Homo sapiens: one gene and its partner. The protein of the gene in region 2 interacts with the protein of the main gene of each other region in a biochemical or structural test. Each region holds a gene or a part of one and is shown on either strand. Other genes may lie near its edges. The genes, in order: CXCL14 and TNFRSF10C.

Region 1 (3,232 bases), on a different chromosome or scaffold from region 2:
TCACTGTTCTATGTTCATTAAGATATTTTCAACTTGTTTCAGGGGAGGGAGGTGGGGAGGGCAGGGACCTCAACACTCTAAGAAAGAGGGGTGAACTAATTTTATAGCAAAGTGAGAGAAGGCCTGGTAGTGAGAGGCTCTCGTTGCTTTTGTTATTGGAATTTTCAGGAAAAAAAAAAGCAGGGCCATGTTTAGACCTGTGGGTGCCTCCTTTTCCAGGCTGCAGCTCAGGTGGAGGGGAGAAGCAAGGTGAGCTAAAGGTTTGAGTATCCCCCAGCAATCAGATCAAGATGCCCTCAGCCTCTTCCATAACCTGCCCATGGGATTAGCCTTCTGCCAGTTTTGATGACACAGGGCCTGGAGGGTGACAGAGTGTGGACTGCGCAGTTCTGGCCTTTGCCACATGAGCTGCCTGGCTTGACCAGAAAGAGGGCTTCATTCCCAGCAGATTTATAGAAAATAATTTATTGCTCTCATCACTTTCTATTTCAAGCAACTGCAGATGAGGCTGTTTTGGAGGCAGCAAAAAAGGCTCAGGTATAGGGGTTGAGCCCGAGTGTCAGCTCTGGGAGAGCTGGTCACAGGGCTGAGCTTGGGGTAGCATGGCTGGGCCAGGTGAGGGGAGGGCAATGCAGGCACCCACTATGGCTGTACCTTCCACCCTGTGAGGGCAGCTGGTGGGGTAGCACCAGGAGGCCTGGTTTGCTGTCCTGGCTTTGCCCTGTGCTCCCAGGCAAGTCACCCCTCTCTTCCATTTAGCCTTGATATCCCCCTCTGCAGCAGGGGTGCTGGCACTAGTTCCTGGGGAAGTCACCTGCATGGTGTGTGCATGCATGCGTGTGTGTGTGTGTGTGTGTGTGTGTGTGTGTGCTTCCTGATCATGCTATGCAGGCAAATGTGTAAACAGACTCTGCGTATCTGAGGAGTGAGACAGGACAGGCTACCTTCGCATGGTACAGGGGAGCTAGGAACTGGATTCTCCCTCCGAGGACAGACATAAGACCCCAGGAAACCAGAGATGGGAAGCCACCTTCTGATTTTAAGGAAACAGTGCCCAGTAAGTACAGGGCTGGTTCAGGGTGCTGGTGGTCTTAACACTGCTGCCCGCCTTGGTTAACAGTGGCTCTGATTTTAAAGAGCCAAACCTGTGGTGCCTTCCAGCACCTGCGAAGGAAGGAGTTTATCAGGTTTCTGGGCAGCAGAGGGAGTGGGGCACCTTGGAGAAGAAAACATGTTTCTGGCAAGGATCATCCTCAGCACCTCATGGTTTTATAGCGCAGTTTTATAGCCAACATACACAGTCACCTAAGTGGTCACATTTCACCCCACTGAAGTCCTCAGAGCTCCCCTGGCAGCCATGCCAGTGCTCACTCTGCCATTTAACAACTTACGTAACTGAAATAAAAAGAGGAATTAAGATTATAATGCAAATATTAGAGTGAGACAGACTTTAGTTTACAAAATGACAAACCTGCCATGCTTGCAAATGGACAAGAGATGGATAGCTAGCTTTGGTAAGTGGTGAGTTCCTTGTCCCTGGGGGTATGTAAGCATTGTCTGAGTATCTGTTTGCTGTGGATGTTGTGGTGGGTGTTCACATATTAGATGGGGCTAGATGACCTGGTGGGGGGGTCCCTTCCCATCCTGAGAGCCACAGCTGGGTCTGGTGGGAAGGAAGGTGAGTAGAGGCGGGGCGTACCTGCGCTTCTCGTTCCAGGCGTTGTACCACTTGATGAAGCGCTTGGTGCTCTGCAGCTTGGGGTGCAGGCAGTGCTCCTGACCTCGGTACCTGGACACGCTCTTGGTGGTGATGCTGAAACGGAGCAGGATGAGGTGGAGGGTTGAGGAGCCTGAATAACATGTTGCCTCTTGTGTGGCCTGTGAGTAGCCCTGGGCTAAGTCAGGGCCCTGAGAGACTGTGGCTTCCTGCCTCCTCTCAAGGGAGCCGACTTGTGTGCTCACTTCCAAGCTGGCTCTTTGGAAGGTTCTGGTTGTCCCCTTATTCTCTGACTCCATGTTAGGGCCTAACCCTGTATGTAGTGAGCAGCCCTCACTTTTCCCCTGGGAGTCCTGAGAGTCTGGGATGGTCTCTCCCACCCCCAACCTCATGCAGTGTGTTGTCTCCAGGGCTCAGGCCTCTTTTGGGGAACAAAGGTCAGAGGACTCCCAGCCTCTCTGAGCCTGGGATCAGGAGGTGGAGAAAGCTAATGCCAGCAAGGTGCACATGCCAAAACCTCTGTCCTTGGATTTGAGGAGCTCATGGCAAGGCTCAGACATGCCCCGCAGACACTCTGATTTCTGTCTCCTCAACCCCAGTTCCCTCTGACCCACCACAGATTGTCCCAGGGCTGGGCATCTCCTGATCCTGAGGCAAAGTCTTGTTGGCCTTGTGGGAGGTCCCAGGTATCTCACCCCTAAGCAGAAGAGTAAGACCTCTCTTCTGCACAGCCTGAAGATCTCAGGCCTCTATCAGCCAATGTCCCAACACCCAGCAGAAGCCTAGCCATGTGGTAGAGAAGCAGGTGTTGTGCAGACTGTAAGGGCCTGGGACTGAATCTCAAATTTGGCTGTGGGACCTTGGGTAACCTCTCTGAATCCAGTTTGGCCATCTGTAAAATGGGTATAATAATAGGACTATCTCACAGGGTTATTGGGATGATTAAAAGATACAATCTTTAGAAAGTACCCAGGACCTGGTAGATGCACAATTAACAGTTACTGTTACTAGTCATTGGTCATGGAAGATGAAGTGGCCAAGGGGAAAGAGTAGCCTTGCTGTGGGGGCTCCAGCCTGGAGGGCGAGGCAAGCCTGCTGCTCAGAACTTCTGAGCACCTCTAGGCCACAGGCATGACAGGAGTTGTGGGGAATAAGAGACCACCTAGGGTATTTGGAAAAGTGCAAGGTGAGAGGTGAGGATGCCACTTCTTGAGGGGTCACAGCCATGCAAGCCATGATGGTAGACTGGGGTGCTGGAATGGGCTTGGAGGGCAAAGGGGGAGACTGGAAGTGAGAGTGGAAAGAGTGAGAAGAGAGGGACAGAGGTCAGCTAGTTCCCCACTGTTAACCAAATGGAAAATGTCATGGCTTATATGGGCTAAGTTCTAGAAGGGACAGGATTCCCATTACTTCAGTCTCCCAGTTGATGGGGAAAGAAAATCGGATCTTGCCACCAGAATGGGGGCATAATGTTCCTAGGCAACCTGTTCTCTTCCCTTCTCCGTGCTCTGGGTT
Region 2 (3,826 bases):
ATATACAGCTTTCAATGTTTGTATTAAAAAACTGGGGGTTAGGGAGATGGGGAGTTACTGCTGAAGGGTATGTAGTTCCTTTCTGGAGTGATAAAAATATTCTAAAATTGATTATAGTGATGATTGCATAGCTATGAGTATATTAAAAACTGCTGAAGTGTGGACTTTAAATGGGTGAATTATATGAATAATCATAATTATTAATTATGTGAATTGTGTCTCACTAAAGCTGTCAAAAAAAGAAAAAACGTGAAAATTATGGGCCGGGCACGGTGGCTCACATCTGTAATTCCAGCACTTTGGGAGGCCGAGGAGGGTGGATCACGAGGTCAGAAAATCGAGACCATCCTGGCTAACACGGTGAAACCCTGTCTCTACTAAAAATACAAAAAATTAGCCAGGCGTGGTGGCGGGCACCTGTAGTCCCAGTTACTTGGGAGGCTGAGGCAGGAGAATAGCATGAACCTGGGAGGTGGAGCTTGCAGTGAGCCGAGATTGTGCCACTGCACTCCGGCCTGGGAGACAGCGAGACTCCATCTCAAAAAAAAAAAAGAAAAAGAAAAAGAAAATTATGGCCTGAGGAGCTACATTAATCAATCATAAAATATAAGTGTAAATTTAAACCAAACAAAGTAACAGGAAGGAGCATAAATCAAAGAATACAAACCACAGAAAGAACTGAGAAAACCAACTGTGTGCGGTGGCTTACGCCTGTAATCCCAGTACTTTGGGAGGCCCAGGCAGGCAGATCACTTGAGCTCAGGAGTTAAACCACTCTGGGCAACATGGCGAAACCCCAGCTCTACAAAATATGTGAAAATTAGATGGGCGTTGTGGCACACACCTGTCTTTGGGGACTGAGGTGGCAGGACCACTTGAGCCTGGGAGGCAGAGGAGGCAAAGGTTGTAGTGAACCGAGATTACACCACTGCACTCTGCGCTCCAACATGGAGGACAGAGGGAGACCCTGTCTCCAAAAAAAAAAAAAAAAAAAAAAAAAAGACAAAATGAAAAGTTGGTCTTCTGAAAGGATTTTAAAAAACACTAATAAACCCCTCATTAAATGAGAGGGAGTAAGAGTGTGAGAGCAGAGAAAGGAGACGCAGACATCGCCTGAACCTAGAGGGACTCCAACCCGGGAAAGAATGATTTGGGAAAAGTGGGTTAGCTTCACTGTCACCAACTGCTAGTCAGGCTTTGATGTGGAAGAAAGCTACATTTTGTCTTGTTTAGATCCAGGCAGTTGAACTGAGCCCAACATAAGCAGCTTTCATTGTAACCATTTTGGTTTTGCTTAAATTAATTTCCTACTTTAAAACACTCCCAACTTAAAGAAAAGTTACAAAAACTATACAATAAAAACATTTGAAAAAATGGCTGTTGGCATGATGAAAGCTATTATTGAATTCTTTAGTGTGTACTTTCTACAAACAAGGAAATTAACATCAACACATTACCACTATCTATCCGCACTCTATTCCGATTTCTCCAGTTGTCTTCTAGTTGTCATTTATAACATAGAGATCATGGCCAGAATCCCTGAATTGCTGTTTCATCTTTTTTGTCACTCTTTGATATTTAGTGGGAGCAGCTTGACAAGGTCCTTTGTAAAGCAGTAATTAATTACTTAATGTTTGATGCTATATCCTGACTTTCTGTAAGGTTATATATATTATAACCTTCATTTGTAAAGCTGAGTATGTTTAAGTGTGTGTCTGTGTGTATTTGTGTGTGTGTGAGTGAGAGACAGAATTCACCTATTGGTCAATTAAACACTTGGTGAAACTAAATATATTAAATGCTATTTCTGCATGAAGGGCTCATATGTGTGTGGTTTTTTAAAATTCTTATAAAATCTTTTCTTTCCAACCATGGTGGCATGTGCCTCTTATCCACATTTCTTGGGAGACTGAAGCAGGAGGATCACTTCAGGCCAGGAGTTCAAGCCTATAGTAAGATATGATCACACCTGTGAATAGCCACTGCATTCCAGCCTGGGCAACATAGCAAGACTCTGTATCAAAAAAACAAAATAGCTCTTCTTGCTCCCATTATCTGGGGTAAATTTATGTTATAATATGAGAAAAGGATACATAAGTGTTTTTCTTTTTCTTTTCATTTTTTCTTTTTTTTTTTTATTTGAGATGGAGTCTCGCACTGTCACCACATTGGAGTGCAATGGCGCGATCTTGGCTCACTGCAACCTCTGCCTCTCAGGTTCAAGCTATTCTCCTGCCTCAGCCTCCTGAGTAGCTGGGATTACAGGTGTGTGCCACCACACCCAGCTAATTTTTGTATTTTTAGTAGAGACAGGGTTTCACCGTGTTGGCCAGGATGGTCTCGATCTCTTGACCTTGTGATCCACCTGCCTCAGACTTCCACATTGCTGGGATTACAAGCTTGAGCCATCGCGCTTGCCTGTATTTTTTTTTTTTTTTATAGAAAATAGCTGGCCCTAACAGGCCAAGGGACAAACACAGGTATGAAAGAATGAAAGTTTGGAGCTGGAAAAAATGTCCAAGCTCTGATGGGTTTTGTCACTTGGGGTGAAGGGAATGTGAGATGGAGCCTGGGAGGGGTGAGGTCTGGAAGTCACTCACACCCATCACTCCTTTGTCCCCACAGGTCCTAGCTTACTCTGCCACCACTGCCCGGCAGGAGGAAGTTCCCCAGCAGACAGTGGCCCCACAGCAACAGAGGCACAGCTTCAAGGGGGAGGAGTGTCCAGCAGGTGCACTCTTATTTTTAAAAATCAGTTTATTTTTAATTGACAGATAAACATTGTATGTATTTATGATGTACACCATGATGTTTTGAAATATGTACGCATTGTGGAATGGCTAAATCAAGCTAATTCACATACTTAATCATGTATTCGTGGTAAGAACACTTAAAAATCTGCTCAGCAATTTTCAGCTGTATGGATACAGAGCCCTGGGATAAGCCCTCTTTGCCCTTTTTATCTGTGGGTTCTGTAGCCTTCCTTATCTATGGGTTCTGTATCCATGGTTGCAACAAACCACAGATCAAAAATATGCGGAAGAAATAAAAATGATAATACATCAATAAAAGCAGATAAAAAGCAATGCAGTATAGCACTTATTTACATAGCATGTCTATTGCATTAGGTATTACAAGTAATCTAGAGATGATTTAAAGCATATGTGCGTGGGTTTTATGCAATACTATCCCAATTTATATCAGGGACTTGAGTATATGCAGAGTTTGTTCCATGGAATATATTCCCTGTGGATAGAAGGCAGGACTGTACAACACATTGTTTTAATAACTGTAGTCGCCATGTCACACAATACATCTCTTGAATTTATTCTCCCTGTCTAACTGAAATTTTGTATCCTTTGACTAACATCTCCCCATCCCACCATCCAACTCAAGCCCTGGTAATCACCATTCTGCTCTCCACCTCTATGAGACCAACTTTTTCTGATTCCACATATGTGAGATCATGAGGTGTTTGCCTTTCTGTGCCTGGCTTATTTCACTTAGCATAGTATCCTCCAGCTTCATCCATGCTGACACAAATGACAGAACTCCCTTCTTTTTAAAGGCTGAATAGTATTCCATTGTATCTATGTGTCACATTTTCTTTAACTTTTCATCCATCCATGGACACGTAGGTTGATTCCATGTCTTGACCATTGTAAATAATGCTCCAATGCATATGGGAGGGAAGATATCTCTTCAATATACTGACGTCATTTCCTTTGGATGTATACCCAATAGTGGGATTGCTAGATCATATAGTTGTTCTATTTTTTGTTTTTTGAGGAACCTCCATACTGTTTTCCATAATGGCTGTACTAAT

Evidence for each region.
Region 1: the proteins of TNFRSF10C (region 2) and CXCL14 form a complex in vitro, tested with the Homo sapiens proteins (one large-scale study listed by BioGRID).

What each region holds. Positions count from the first base shown.
Region 1 is NC_000005.10:135,572,873-135,576,104, forward strand, and holds part of CXCL14 (C-X-C motif chemokine 14 precursor), read right to left. Parts: intron 1,814-3,232; coding exon 1,700-1,813; intron 1-1,699. UniProt on the Homo sapiens protein: Potent chemoattractant for neutrophils, and weaker for dendritic cells. Not chemotactic for T-cells, B-cells, monocytes, natural killer cells or granulocytes. Does not inhibit proliferation of myeloid progenitors in colony formation assays.
Region 2 is NC_000008.11:23,109,095-23,112,920, forward strand, and holds part of TNFRSF10C (tumor necrosis factor receptor superfamily member 10C precursor), read left to right. Parts: intron 1-2,625; coding exon 2,626-2,731; intron 2,732-3,826. UniProt on the Homo sapiens protein: Receptor for the cytotoxic ligand TRAIL. Lacks a cytoplasmic death domain and hence is not capable of inducing apoptosis. May protect cells against TRAIL mediated apoptosis by competing with TRAIL-R1 and R2 for binding to the ligand.